2 linked regions of the Homo sapiens genome follow. The protein of the gene in region 1 interacts with the protein of each later gene in a pairwise test. Each region holds a gene or a part of one and is shown in the gene's direction. Other genes may lie near its edges.

Region 1 (7,088 bases):
ATAATCTAATTCATTTCCTAACCAATTCTTCCATTGGAACTGCTCACTCTTTACGGGGCCTGACCTCTTTGGGAGAGCTGGGGGACTGCAGACAGAGCAAGAGAGAAGTTTACTGTGATATATACCAGAAAATTACATTTACTTTGACTTCTGCTTTTATTCATTAATAGTACACATTTGTAGATGTCTGTGTGAGAGATCAAGGTTAGATCCATCATGAGAAAAAAATTAGAATGATAGAGAATTTGTTTCAGGTCTGAGACAACTGAATTCCCTCTGTCTTCTGAAGGTAATCACGGTGACTGAGTGGGGCTGAAGATTGGGCTTCCAGTGCTTAGGGAAGAGGCCCGAGGTGGACAGAGGCAGGCCTTCAAATCCAATTTGCACCCAAATTGGCTGGTAGGATATACAAAGCCCCATCCAGAGACTTTCAACTTGCACAATACTCTGTCCAGGACCCCCCTCCCCCTCCATTTCAAATAGTAGCAGTTCTTTAAAAAAGCTATTGCTGAGACAAACACGGGGTGCTGAGTAAACAGTGCATGTTTTGTTGAACAAGCTATATATATATACATATATACACACACACACATATATATGTGTGTGAGTATATATATATATCACCATCTCGACATAAAGTGCAATTGAAATTATTAAAAGGAATTAAAACTCACTTCTTGCCAGATTACAAATAACTTTTGTCATTAGGAAGAATAGATTTTTAAATATTACATTAAACTATATACTATTTATGCCCATAAGAATATCCTATTTTGAGAGACTTGCATTCATGCAATCCTTAAACTATATAACATAGCCTTAATTTGAATGAAAAACATTTTCCCAGTCAATATGAGCTCCTAGCATATAAAATCAGATTATTACAGTGCTCATTAGCAAACCCCAGTTTTTGCTATTTGAAAGTAAACAGAAGAAAAACTTATTTCCACCTGCTAAAATTTTATACAGGATTACAAAACAATGCACGCTCAGATTTGACCTAAGAAACACCTTAAAACATTAAAAATTCATCAGTCAGAGCTGGTGTTGTATTGAAGGAAAGCTCCTCCAGTTTGCTGCTGAGCTCGGATTTGAATAAAATGTCCAATGTTAACAAACAATACCCACGTTTGGCACTTTGTGTATTAAATTGATCAAACAGATTTTAGGAGGCACAATGCACAATTTGTACAGACCTGATTGAGTTAATATAATATCAGCAAATTTTACATCGAAATGATTCTGTTTCTTTTCTTTGTGTTTAAAACCAGCACAGATTACAAATTTTAATGATCTGAAAATGTTTGGTATACAAAATCATGCTTATTTCAGTATTAGCAAAAACACAAGAAATTTTTCAACACAAACACCCAGCTGTGTCTATTTTAAAAGCAGTTCAATGACAGCTTGCACTTATGAGCATGCAATCAGCTAATTTCGTTTTTTTTTTCTTCTGTGTTAATCAACACTTTCCTTCCTGCATATCAGAGTACAAATAGTATAGTTACTCCACATCAGTAAATGTTTACGTAACCTGTCCTTTCCCAAGAATCCGGTTACACCGAATCATTTCACGCTAGACCGACTACGAAAACGTACCGGGCCGTCCACCTCAGAGGGAGCCCTGTGTGCCATTATAAGTGGTGGTGAGAAGGGGGGCTGTAAGAGGAGAAATTGGGAGGAGTAGGTGGAGGAATGGAGAGACAGAGGAATGGAGGGTGGGGGGAAGGGGCGGGGGGAGCTAAGGGAGAAGGAGGGAGGAGGGAGGAAGGAGAGTTGAGGAAAAGTAGGAAGAACGGGCCTGAAGAGGGGAGAAGAGTGGGAGGAGGAAAAGTGAGTAGGAAGGGGAAGGCCCACAAATCTCTCCAGCCGGTAGGCAAAGCCCATTAGCTCACCCGGCCCTGCGAGAAATCCAGAGCTTGGAAATAAATGTTTGGGACCATGTCACTATCAACACTGATTGTTGGAACCCTTGAATTTTTCCACATGTAAATACAGTTTGTTTTAAAGTGAGAAGATATGTAGACATAGGTAAAGATACATACATACAGTGGAAGGACATTTGAGGTTAGTCCAATATTCAAAGCTCCTTTGTGGCATTCCTAATAGATGCATATTTAAAATTCACTAGCTATTTGTAATTATCTATTATTCTCTCCAGTTTCCTCCCCCCCCCCCAACCTTTTCTCTCTTTCTCTTTCTTAAGACTGGGGGTGGGGAGGATGGAATAACCCCCTATTATCCTGAGTATTCATCAACCGCATTCTTTATGTTACAATTTAACTTTAGGATCAAGCATAAGCACCAATTTTCCTTCCTTCGTTTTCTTAAATACCAAATCTGCCAGATATCTTAATGAAAGTTTATCCAAGTGAAGAAATGCTTACATTTTATAATTATTTACCTTCTAGAGGAAGGAAAAGGTGCCTTTCATTTATGCTTCTCCACCTCCCTCTTCTCTGGGGCTACATCCTCCGTAAAATGTGGTATGTTTCGTGCCCATGTGGGATGAAACAGCCTTTGATCAATGTGCTCCCCACTAAATTCCAATCCCTGGGAAATGCTGGGCCTTAGCCCTGCCCCTGGCCACGGGATCCTTTTAAAGCCCCCGATTCGCAATTTCCCCATTCACTTCAACCTCCAACCGAACCTTCCCAGTTCCAAAGCCCAAGAAGCTGGGACTGTGAGATCCACGTTCCCAAGGCTCCCCGGTGCTTTCCAGCAGCACTCAGGGTTGGCAAGAGCTGGCTTCAGTATACTGTTATTTCAGGAATGAGGCCCGCACAAAATAAAAGCATTTGAGAAACGGAAAGGAAAAAAAAGGAGTGAAAATAGGAAGGCTTAAAAAAAAAACCGGAAAGAAATAGACGCCCACCCTTATTTTCCCTCCAATGTCAACAAGCAAAACGAAAATATTTCCAGGGTGATCGCTCGCAGCTACCCGCTTCCAATTCGGATTAGAAGCTGAGGCTGGAGCGGCGAGGAGAAAACGACATCGAGTCACCCCGCGCGTGAGCGACGCTCTGGAGCAGGAGAGAAGGAAAAGGAAGAGACACACGTATATAGCATGTGTTACCTGATTTATTTCGAGATTGTTTGGTACTGTTTTCTCTCTGGGCACCTCTCATTTCGGAAGGCCATCAGAGGCGCCCACTACTGAGCGGCCCCGGCCGCCGCAGCAGCACCCGGAGCCCCAGTCCCGGTTTCCCCGCGGTGCCGGAGCCCGGAGCTCGCCGCCGCCCAGGCCTCAGGAATCGAGTAAGTAACCCCTGTTTGGCCCCGCGCTCCTCTGCCCACTTCCTCCTCCTCATCTCATCGCTCCCAAAGCTCTCCCACACCCTCCTCCCCCGAAGTAAAGGACACCCCCGCACACACGCCAGCGGTGGGCCTTATCTCCCCCCTTATCCAAAGCTGCGCTAGACTATTACCTACAAAGGGCACAATTTTCCTGCTGGCTCAGAAATGCCAGACACTGGCCTGCAAGGCCGACTCGGAAAAGTAGTGCCTCGCCTCTACCTCCTCCATTTCCTGCCCTCTCGCATCCTCTCCCTGCACTCCCACTCTTCCCACTACCACCACCACCCCCGCTTTCAAAAATAAAATTGGATACAAACTTTAATCACTAAGGACAAATATTGACGCTTAAACGAAAATGACCCAGTACAATGAGGAGGAAGCCGGAAATGTGAGCTATTGGCCCTAGGAGGGGAATTTCGGTGGAGCGGAGCCGGCGGGGTGGAGGGGGTGGCGGGGGCGCAGGGAAGGGCTGCGGCACCGCGTGCTCCCGCCGGCGTATCCCTACGCGGCTCCGCGCGGCCTCGGGGTCCGAGGCCCGCGGAGAGGGGGAGGCGAGCGCCCGAGGGGGCGGCAGCCGGCGGGCGGGGCGGGGGTGGGTGGGCCCGGCCCCTCCGATTGGTCGACGGCGAGAGAGACGCTCCCGCACGCCGCCAGCTCTGATTGGCCCAGCGGTAGGAAAGGTTAAACCAAAAATTTTTTTACAGCCCTAGTGTGCGCCTGTAGCTCGGAAAATTAATTGTGGCTATAGCCGCCTCGATCGCTGTCTCCCCAGCCTCGCCGCGGCCGCTCCGGGACGCGCCCGCCCGCCGCCCGGCTCTCCCCCCCTTTGGGCTGCTGCTGCTGCTGCTGTGACTGCTGCTGCGAGAGGAGGAGGAGGAGGAGGAAGCAGCGGGGGGGGGAGCGGGGGGTGGGGGGGGAGACCAAGAAGTACAGTTGGGAGCGAGGGAGCTTCACCCCCGGGGCGGTGGTTGTTTCTTTTTTCTTTCTTTCTTTTTTCTTTTCCTTTTTTTTTTTTTTTCTAATTCCTGAGGGGTGGTTGCTGCTTTTGCTACATGACTTGCCAGCGCCCGAGCCTGCGGTCCAACTGCGCTGCTGCCGGAGCGCTCAGTGCCGCCGCTGCCGCCCGCGCCCCCCGCGCCCCGTTCGGCACCCACCGGTCGCCGCCGCCCGCCGCGCCGCTGTCCCGCTCCCGCGCCGCCGCCGCCGTTTCCCCCCGACGACTGGGTGATGCTGGACATGGGAGATAGGAAAGAGGTGAAAATGATCCCCAAGTCCTCGTTCAGCATCAACAGCCTGGTGCCCGAGGCGGTCCAGAACGACAACCACCACGCGAGCCACGGCCACCACAACAGCCACCACCCCCAGCACCACCACCACCACCACCACCATCACCACCACCCGCCGCCGCCCGCCCCGCAACCGCCGCCGCCGCCGCAGCAGCAGCAGCCGCCGCCGCCGCCGCCCCCGGCACCGCAGCCCCCCCAGACGCGGGGCGCCCCGGCCGCCGACGACGACAAGGGCCCCCAGCAGCTGCTGCTCCCGCCGCCGCCACCGCCACCACCGGCCGCCGCCCTGGACGGGGCTAAAGCGGACGGGCTGGGCGGCAAGGGCGAGCCGGGCGGCGGGCCGGGGGAGCTGGCGCCCGTCGGGCCGGACGAGAAGGAGAAGGGCGCCGGCGCCGGGGGGGAGGAGAAGAAGGGGGCGGGCGAGGGCGGCAAGGACGGGGAGGGGGGCAAGGAGGGCGAGAAGAAGAACGGCAAGTACGAGAAGCCGCCGTTCAGCTACAACGCGCTCATCATGATGGCCATCCGGCAGAGCCCCGAGAAGCGGCTCACGCTCAACGGCATCTACGAGTTCATCATGAAGAACTTCCCTTACTACCGCGAGAACAAGCAGGGCTGGCAGAACTCCATCCGCCACAATCTGTCCCTCAACAAGTGCTTCGTGAAGGTGCCGCGCCACTACGACGACCCGGGCAAGGGCAACTACTGGATGCTGGACCCGTCGAGCGACGACGTGTTCATCGGCGGCACCACGGGCAAGCTGCGGCGCCGCTCCACCACCTCGCGGGCCAAGCTGGCCTTCAAGCGCGGTGCGCGCCTCACCTCCACCGGCCTCACCTTCATGGACCGCGCCGGCTCCCTCTACTGGCCCATGTCGCCCTTCCTGTCCCTGCACCACCCCCGCGCCAGCAGCACTTTGAGTTACAACGGCACCACGTCGGCCTACCCCAGCCACCCCATGCCCTACAGCTCCGTGTTGACTCAGAACTCGCTGGGCAACAACCACTCCTTCTCCACCGCCAACGGCCTGAGCGTGGACCGGCTGGTCAACGGGGAGATCCCGTACGCCACGCACCACCTCACGGCCGCCGCGCTAGCCGCCTCGGTGCCCTGCGGCCTGTCGGTGCCCTGCTCTGGGACCTACTCCCTCAACCCCTGCTCCGTCAACCTGCTCGCGGGCCAGACCAGTTACTTTTTCCCCCACGTCCCGCACCCGTCAATGACTTCGCAGAGCAGCACGTCCATGAGCGCCAGGGCCGCGTCCTCCTCCACGTCGCCGCAGGCCCCCTCGACCCTGCCCTGTGAGTCTTTAAGACCCTCTTTGCCAAGTTTTACGACGGGACTGTCTGGGGGACTGTCTGATTATTTCACACATCAAAATCAGGGGTCTTCTTCCAACCCTTTAATACATTAACATCCCTGGGACCAGACTGTAAGTGAACGTTTTACACACATTTGCATTGTAAATGATAATTAAAAAAATAAGTCCAGGTATTTTTTATTAAGCCCCCCCCTCCCATTTCTGTACGTTTGTTCAGTCTCTAGGGTTGTTTATTATTCTAACAAGGTGTGGAGTGTCAGCGAGGTGCAATGTGGGGAGAATACATTGTAGAATATAAGGTTTGGAAGTCAAATTATAGTAGAATGTGTATCTAAATAGTGACTGCTTTGCCATTTCATTCAAACCTGACAAGTCTATCTCTAAGAGCCGCCAGATTTCCATGTGTGCAGTATTATAAGTTATCATGGAACTATATGGTGGACGCAGACCTTGAGAACAACCTAAATTATGGGGAGAATTTTAAAATGTTAAACTGTAATTTGTATTTAAAAAGCATTCGTAGTAAAGGTGCCCAAGAAATTATTTTGGCCATTTATTGTTTTGTCCTTTTCTTTAAAGAACTGTTTTTTTTTCTTTTGTTTACTTTTAGACCAAAGATTGGGTTCTAGAAAATGCACTTGGTATACTAAGTATTAAAACAAACAAAAAGGAAAGTTGTTTCAGTTGGCAACACTGCCCATTCAATTGAATCAGAAGGGGACAAAATTAACGATTGCCTTCAGTTTGTGTTGTGTATATTTTGATGTATGTGGTCACTAACAGGTCACTTTTATTTTTTCTAAATGTAGTGAAATGTTAATACCTATTGTACTTATAGGTAAACCTTGCAAATATGTAACCTGTGTTGCGCAAATGCCGCATAAATTTGAGTGATTGTTAATGTTGTCTTAAAATTTCTTGATTGTGATACTGTGGTCATATGCCCGTGTTTGTCACTTACAAAAATGTTTACTATGAACACACAGAAATAAAAAATAGGCTAAATTCATATATATCTTGATACTTTTGTCTCTTTTATTAAGTAGAGCTAATTTTTTAAAGACCAATCAACTTATAGGGAATTCAAAGGCTTTTTCAGCCAAACTAAAATTTAAACTGCTCCTTTAATTTGAACTGACTCTAAAAATGAAAATAGTATTTTTCCCTTTGTGAACAAATTTTACAAG
Region 2 (7,278 bases), on another chromosome or scaffold:
TTATTTTGGGACTTCCTACATAATGCTTTATCTGAAATTTATTTTACCATTGGTTGTGCCTTGTCCCACATTAGGTGCTGTGTCCTCGATGTGATATTGGCCTTTTGGGATTGAAAAGGAAGCAGAGAAAGTTAAAGGAGCCCTTGCCAAATGGAAAGAAAAAAAGCACCAAATTAGAGAGTCTGAGTGACCTGGAGAGAGCTTTAACTGAAAGCAAGGAGACTGCTTCAGCTGTATGTAGGGTTTTTTTCTTCTCCTTTCTATGTTATTGGGAAGAATAATTTCTAACCCTTTCTGTTTTATAGGAATTTGGAGAAGGCAAGTAGAGTAACTTGAAAGCGTTCAGTTTTACTAAAAAGACTTTTTGAAAATTGTCAAGTGTTAAGAGTTTTGAATGGTAAGATGCATAGAGGTGGGAAAGATTCAGGGTAGGCTTCCCAGTCTCAGGGTCTTGCAGGCACAGAAACAGTCTTGTTTAGTGCCTGTGGGTTGATCCAGGAATGCTAACTAAAGATATTGAGACTAATATTAATAGATGTATGAAAATGCAATGCTAATTTATTAGTTTATAGTTAAGAAGTACATTTAAAAGTTTACTGGATACTTTGATACTCATCTGGAATACCTTACATCTCTGACCTGCATTTAGTAAATACTGTTGATTCAAAGATGATAGTTTAAAGAAGATGAGGCAATGTATAACTAATGTTACACATTAAGCACCTTATCGGGATAAAAAAGGGATAGCTATGTGATGCTTTTAATGGCACAAAGCATTGCCCGTTCTAGAGTGGGAATGTATACCTGCTACTGGGACTAGATTGAATGGGTTCATCTGTGGATCTGGACACCTTCTCCCATTGATTTCTTTGTAGCTGCCAGACCTCTTGTGATAGACATGGGTTGCCTTGATTTATTTAGGTATTTTGACACAGATGTTCTTAGTGTATATTCGTATATTCAGTCAGGTTCTAGACAGAATTCTGCCATCAGAGGTCCTCCATTCCATCTGTGGTTTGTTTTTATAAAGACTAACTGAAAGTTACAGTCCCCCTCTCCTGAGGTGTATATATGTTGGTTTGAAACTTTATATGCAGTATCTTTTGTAGATTTTAGTCTGTCCATCTGTCTGTAGACCCCTGGTTTTAAGAATTCTCCCTACGTATTATCTGTTAATTTATGGTAGAACTCAAAGGTTAGTCATTTGCTTTCCATCTCTAAGCTGTCAGAAGTTACCTTGTTATCATATAACCCACACATATTACCTGTGTATTATATTTACAAAAGAAGTGGATTTTTTTTTTTTTTTAATATACCCAAAGGTCTTTACCTGATTTGCTTTTAGGCTTTTTTTTTTTTTTTTTAATAGAGATAATGGAGAGTTTATTCTGGCCTTGTAAGGGTGCTTCATCTGGTGAATCGTGATGGATCTGAAAGGGGATAGATGTGGTGATTGGAAATGGTTTTTTAACTGTGACAGATTTTTTGAGAACTTGTTTACTATGTGCCAGGCAAAGAGTGTCCTATCCCACATCTCTTACTTGTCATCTCACCCTGTAAGGTGGGCACTATTATCACCTCCATTTTACACATGCAGAAATTTAGCCACAATGGAATACATGGCACCAGGTCACTCACAGCTTAGTATGAGGCAGTCAGGATTTGAATACAGATGATCTACTCAGGATCCCATGCTCTTAACCACTAGGACTCTGAGTTTTAGGGGAAGGCCAAGCCATCTCGGACATCATCCTTGATTGTTAACTCTTTTTCAGATGGCAACTCTTGGGGAAGCTCGCCTAAGGGAAATGGAAGCCTTGCAGTCTCTCAGACTCGCCAATGAAGGGAAATTGCTGTCGCCTCTCCAAGATGTGGATATAAAAATCTGCCTATGTCAGAAGGCCCCAGCTGCCCCTATGATTCAATGTGAACTCTGCAGGGATGCTTTCCACACCAGTTGTGTGGCGGTACCCAGTATTTCACAGGGCCTGCGAATCTGGCTTTGTCCCCATTGTCGGAGGTCAGAGAAACCTCCATTAGAGAAAATTCTGCCCCTGCTCGCCTCCCTTCAGCGTATCCGAGTTCGCCTTCCTGAGGGAGATGCACTTCGATATATGATTGAAAGAACCGTGAACTGGCAGCACAGAGCCCAGCAACTGCTTTCGTCAGGGAATCTTAAATTTGTGCAAGATCGAGTGGGCTCAGGACTGTTATATAGCAGATGGCAAGCCTCAGCAGGACAGGTGTCAGACACAAACAAGGTGAATCTGGACTTTCCTTGTTGGGTTATTGGAATTTGCAAAGCTCTGTACCTTTCTCTCGAACCTGTAGCTTTGGTGTTGCTATTCCCTTGGTGTGATCACTTTACTGTTAACAGCACCCACTTTACCTGTAGCTTCCCACTTCAAGACCATGCAGGTATAACATATTCTTTTAATTTCCTCTGCTCCTATTAGAAGTTGTTTCCCAGGCACTCTTTCTATAGAGCACATATTTAGCTTTTCACAGATACAAATAATTTTTTCATTTATATGTATGCTGACCCATTTATATTTTACATATACGTATATGATGTATCTTTAAGTCTTTGCTTGACTAAAAAGTTTTTTACCCTGCTTCTTCTCATGTAAGTCAATTAGTAGAAAGGGAAAACACTTCCTGCCTTTTATCGCTTTTTGCCCTTTAAGGGAAAATATTTTTTGGAAGAAGTGTTTGAGCACTGTGTTATTTCAGAGGAAAGCTCCTGGGTTACACACCATTTGCGATCTTTCTGCCAAAAGCTGGATTCTTTTGACATCACTGGATGGGCAGAGTTTTCTGTTATCTTCCATAGGTGGCTGCAGTAAAAGAATGTGAAGACAATAGAAAAGTACAATCAGGAAGACAGTATTCAATCTTTATGAGGTTAATCTGATGGTTTTTAAAGTTGGTAAACATCTCTGTACCAGAGATACCACAACTCTCTTGTGCCATATGAGCACAGACACATGGATTATATGAGTTAAATTGTTGATAAGATGAAGACCAAACAAAAAAAAAAACAGTCTGTCATATTTGTTTCCTTGGTTTTTTATTTCTTTGCAGGCTTCTGAAATACAGTGCCTGACACATAGATGATGAATTAAATATTTGTTGCATAGATGAGTTGTGGCATTTGTGCACACTCCCAAAGTGGAGTCATTGGTGTTCTTTACCCAGGATGTGCTAGGAGTTTACCTTTCTTAGTAAAGGGAAAGGACACAACTCTTATATTAATTCATGGTCAAAGGAGTGTTTCCCCTAGCTCCTTTAATAAAACACTAAGGAAGATAGGAAAGTGGTTATGGATGATTTCTGACAGGTCCTCATTTGATTTACTCAAAGGGGTACATATGTGTTCATCGTATTTTAATCTTCAATAAGGAGAATTAGAAAAGGATTAAAAGGCTGTATGATCTGTTCTCACACTGAGAAAGTGGCTTATTTCCCAGTGGCCTTCTTTACATCTCTGAAATCAGTCCAAGTAAAACTGGAAAGATTAAAGGCTTGGTCTTTGGGAAGATATGAGTTGATTTGGCCAGTTCTGAAATGCCAGGAGACTCTTCAGTAGGGGAAAATCAAGTTGTTTTTTTTTTTTTTTCCCCTGGTTGCCTGCCTGGGTAATGCAAGCTACTGTCATTGGACTAATGGGAGTATTTTTAATCCTGAAGAGATTTTATTATAAAACGTTTTCCCTCCATTAGGTATCTCAACCTCCTGGCACAACATCATTTTCTTTGCCTGATGACTGGGACAACAGAACCTCATATTTGCACTCCCCCTTCTCAACTGGACGAAGTTGTATCCCCCTCCATGGTTTGTATTTTGTTATTACGTTGAGGGCTGGATAGTAATGAGTGATCTTGTATTACTAGGTTTTTATTATAGATGATCAAGTACCATAAAAAGGACTTTATGCTGAAATGTAGGATATAGGCTATTATGTATTTGCAAAATAGGGAAGGGATCCTATTTGAAGGCTTATAAATGCAAAGGAACAGAGAGGAAGACTTTATATCCATTGTCCTCAGGGATGAAAGGGTTCATGCCACACCAGCTGATAAACACCAAGCTTTTAAGTCAGATGCTAAGTCATGGGCTCTCTTGTTGCTTCATTACTTAGGAGACTTGTGGAGAATCTTAGGGATAATCCACATTTGCTAGAGTCCTGATCCTTAGTCATAGCATCTCAGTGTATGTCTAGTAATGTGGTTAGAGCTCCTTGATCTACTCAGACTGTTGACACTGTGGCCATCAGTCTGTTTCTGTGCTTTCTGTTAGAAGTCATCAAGGCAGAAGTACAATCTCTTCTGCATTAGCAATAAGGTAAATGAGAAGAGGATTCAGTGTATAATTAATACTAGTAATCAGAAGACTTAGGAAATCTAGTTTTGGCTCTGTTTATTATATTGTGGCTTTAGGCACATTAAACCTCACTTCAACTGAAGGTAATTTGTAATTTAAGAAGGAGAGGGTAGTAGTGGTATTAGGGGCAGTCCTTCTATTTGTCTCATAAACCCAAATGTGAATGTGAAACACCCTTTGTTGTTATCATTTTGATTTGGTCTGGTCTTTTACAGGTGTTAGTCCAGAAGTGAATGAACTATTGATGGAAGCCCAGCTGCTCCAGGTATCCCTTCCTGAAATTCAGGAACTTTACCAGACTTTACTTGCAAAGCCAAGCCCTGCTCAGCAGACTGACCGAAGCTCACCAGTGAGACCCAGCAGTGAGAAGGTGAGTGTCTGAGAGGCTTCTGGGGCAAGGCACAGTCTGGGGTGGGGGTATGCTTTATTTTACTCCTCGAAACATAACCAGACAGCTGGTGTGAGGACTGGGCGATTAGACTGAGGATGACCCATTTTGAATGCTGACTTAGTTGAAGGATACTCCTTAATGTCCTGTTTCTTAACATAGTTAAGGATACTGCGGCTGCTGCCACTTCCTTCTAGTGAACTAACTGACCCATCACATTTAAGGCCCCTGAGAATATAGTTAGGATAGAAATCTACTAGGAAGCCTGAAGCCAAATTAGGGAAGAACTTCACTAAAGATAGCATGAGGGCTGATGTTGGCATTTAGAATTTCATTTTTCATGGCAAATTTCATTTGCCATACCAAGTAGTATGGCACAATCATTGAATGTGTTCAGTTAATGCGCCTTACACCTATAAGGTGTGGGGGTGTACATCCTTCAAGAAGGAAGATTATTAGTGTGGTTCCTCAGGAGCCTGTAGGTCACAGGATAGACATAAACACCTAGACAGAAACTATTATAGTAGTTAGTCATTCAGGGATTTGGTGAAAGGAAGACTCTTAGTGGGCACCTCTCCATCTTCTGGTATTGGTTGGTTAATTGGAAGGGTAATCACGTCTTTAACATTCCTTTTTCCAGTGATCCTTTGGTAGCATTAACAGTGATAGGGGAAGGAAGTATGTTAAACCCAAACTGGTTGTCTTATACAAGACTGGGAGGGGAGTGGTTAAGATGCAGTATTTTTTTCCCGTGTAGATTGGGGGATCATCTGATTTCTAATTTACATGTTCTCTTTAGCTTCATTAGTTTTAGTAATAGGTGACCCATAGGCGAAAATTGAACTTTCCTATCTTCCACCCAGAATGACTGTTGCCGAGGGAAGCGAGATGGAATTAACAGTCTTGAGAGAAAACTGAAGAGACGCCTGGAAAGAGAGGGCCTCTCCAGTGAGCGGTGGGAACGAGTTAAGAAAATGCGGACCCCCAAAAAGAAGAAAATCAAACTGAGCCACCCCAAGGACATGAACAATTTCAAGTTAGAGAGAGAGCGTAGCTATGAATTAGTTCGTTCTGCTGAAACTCATTCCCTGCCCTCAGACACATCCTATTCCGAACAGGAAGACTCTGAGGATGAAGATGCCATCTGCCCAGCTGTGAGCTGCCTGCAGCCAGAAGGAGATGAGGTCAGTGAGGTTTGGGCCATAGAGGACGTGCTTTCCCTTAACTCAGAAACCCTGTAAGCTAGACCTCATCTCGCTGGGTCTTTCTCCTCTGCTTATCTGCTTTGAGCTGATCTGAATGGATTGCTCAGCCCTTCCCCCACTGATATCTGTGCTCTTACCATCGTTCCTGGGTCTCCTCCCTTTTCTTGAAGAAACTCTTGTTCTTCCCTTTTTCCTTTTCTTGCTCTTCCAGCTTTCACCTTCCCGGCGCTAAGAAGGTGGGAGGGATGCTGATGTGATGCCCTTTGGCTTACTTATCACAGGGCAGCGCTGTCTTAACCCCAAAGCAGACACGACTTGAAGAATGACTTTGACTCGGTTGCTTTGGCTAGGGGGCCAGCTACACTCATTTGGCTTAGCTGTTGTGCCAGAGGTCCCAGTGGTGGGACAGTGGCTGTTATTGGCAAACGGCCTGAATTTCTTGAGGCTGGCCTGCCCAATTTTGAATCCATTTTTTCCTCTGAAAACCCCATCTTCCTGCTCTTTGTAACCAGGTGGACTGGGTCCAGTGTGATGGCAGCTGCAATCAGTGGTTTCATCAGGTCTGTGTTGGTGTCTCCCCAGAGATGGCAGAGAAAGAAGACTACATCTGTGTGCGCTGTACTGTGAAGGACGCACCAAGCCGAAAGTAAAAACACAAAAACAGATACCCCCCTACTTAATGTAATTCAGGACTCCAACCAAGAGGATTTCTTCAAATCTCAGCAAAGCTACAGGACTGGTACTCAAGCCAGCCTGTAAACGGTGCTATTTCTATTCCTTATGGGATCATTTTTCCAGGACTCTTTGAAGAAAAGAAAAAACAACTAAAAAAATTTTTGACACTTTTTGTATTTTTTCCTTAAGAGCTATTTGTGGTTGTTGAGGTTTGAAAAGCTGACTGTTTTTTTTGCAGGGGTTCCCACCAATTTGGAAGGCATTGAAGCTTGCACCTTTTCATGTACAGCATTAAAATTTTACCTCTCTCTGGGATTTACCAGCTTAAGAGTCCAACTCACTTCCAGTGCCCAAAAGGGCACCCACCAGAAATTCCAGTAAATCCTCATTTGAGGAAGCTCTCCCTTGTTTACTCTGTTACCACATTGGGGAAATTTTTAAGTTTTTCACTTTGGGAGTTTTTGTTTGTTTCTTCTTTTCCTTTATCCACTTTTCTTCTTCCTGGTAGACTAGGTTTATTTATCTGAGCAATAACTTCTATGTTGGTTTCAGTGGCTGGAATTAAAACAAAACAAAACAAACTTCCAAACAGTGTGTTGGTGCTTTAGCGATTGATTGATGTACAGA

Evidence for each region.
Region 2: the proteins of FOXG1 (region 1) and KDM5B interact in a two-hybrid assay, tested with the Homo sapiens proteins (one study listed by BioGRID).

The regions. Positions count from the first base shown.
Region 1 is NC_000014.9:28,762,756-28,769,843, forward strand, and holds the start of FOXG1 (forkhead box protein G1), read left to right. Parts: upstream 1-4,031; 5' UTR 4,032-4,524; coding exon 4,525-5,994; 3' UTR 5,995-7,088. UniProt on the Homo sapiens protein: Transcription repression factor which plays an important role in the establishment of the regional subdivision of the developing brain and in the development of the telencephalon.
Region 2 is NC_000001.11:202,728,384-202,735,661, reverse strand, and holds part of KDM5B (lysine-specific demethylase 5B), read left to right. Parts: intron 1-74; coding exon 75-233; intron 234-1,775; coding exon 1,776-2,261; intron 2,262-3,722; coding exon 3,723-3,834; intron 3,835-4,598; coding exon 4,599-4,753; intron 4,754-5,634; coding exon 5,635-5,955; intron 5,956-6,488; coding exon 6,489-6,626; 3' UTR 6,627-7,278. UniProt on the Homo sapiens protein: Histone demethylase that demethylates 'Lys-4' of histone H3, thereby playing a central role in histone code. Does not demethylate histone H3 'Lys-9' or H3 'Lys-27'. Demethylates trimethylated, dimethylated and monomethylated H3 'Lys-4'.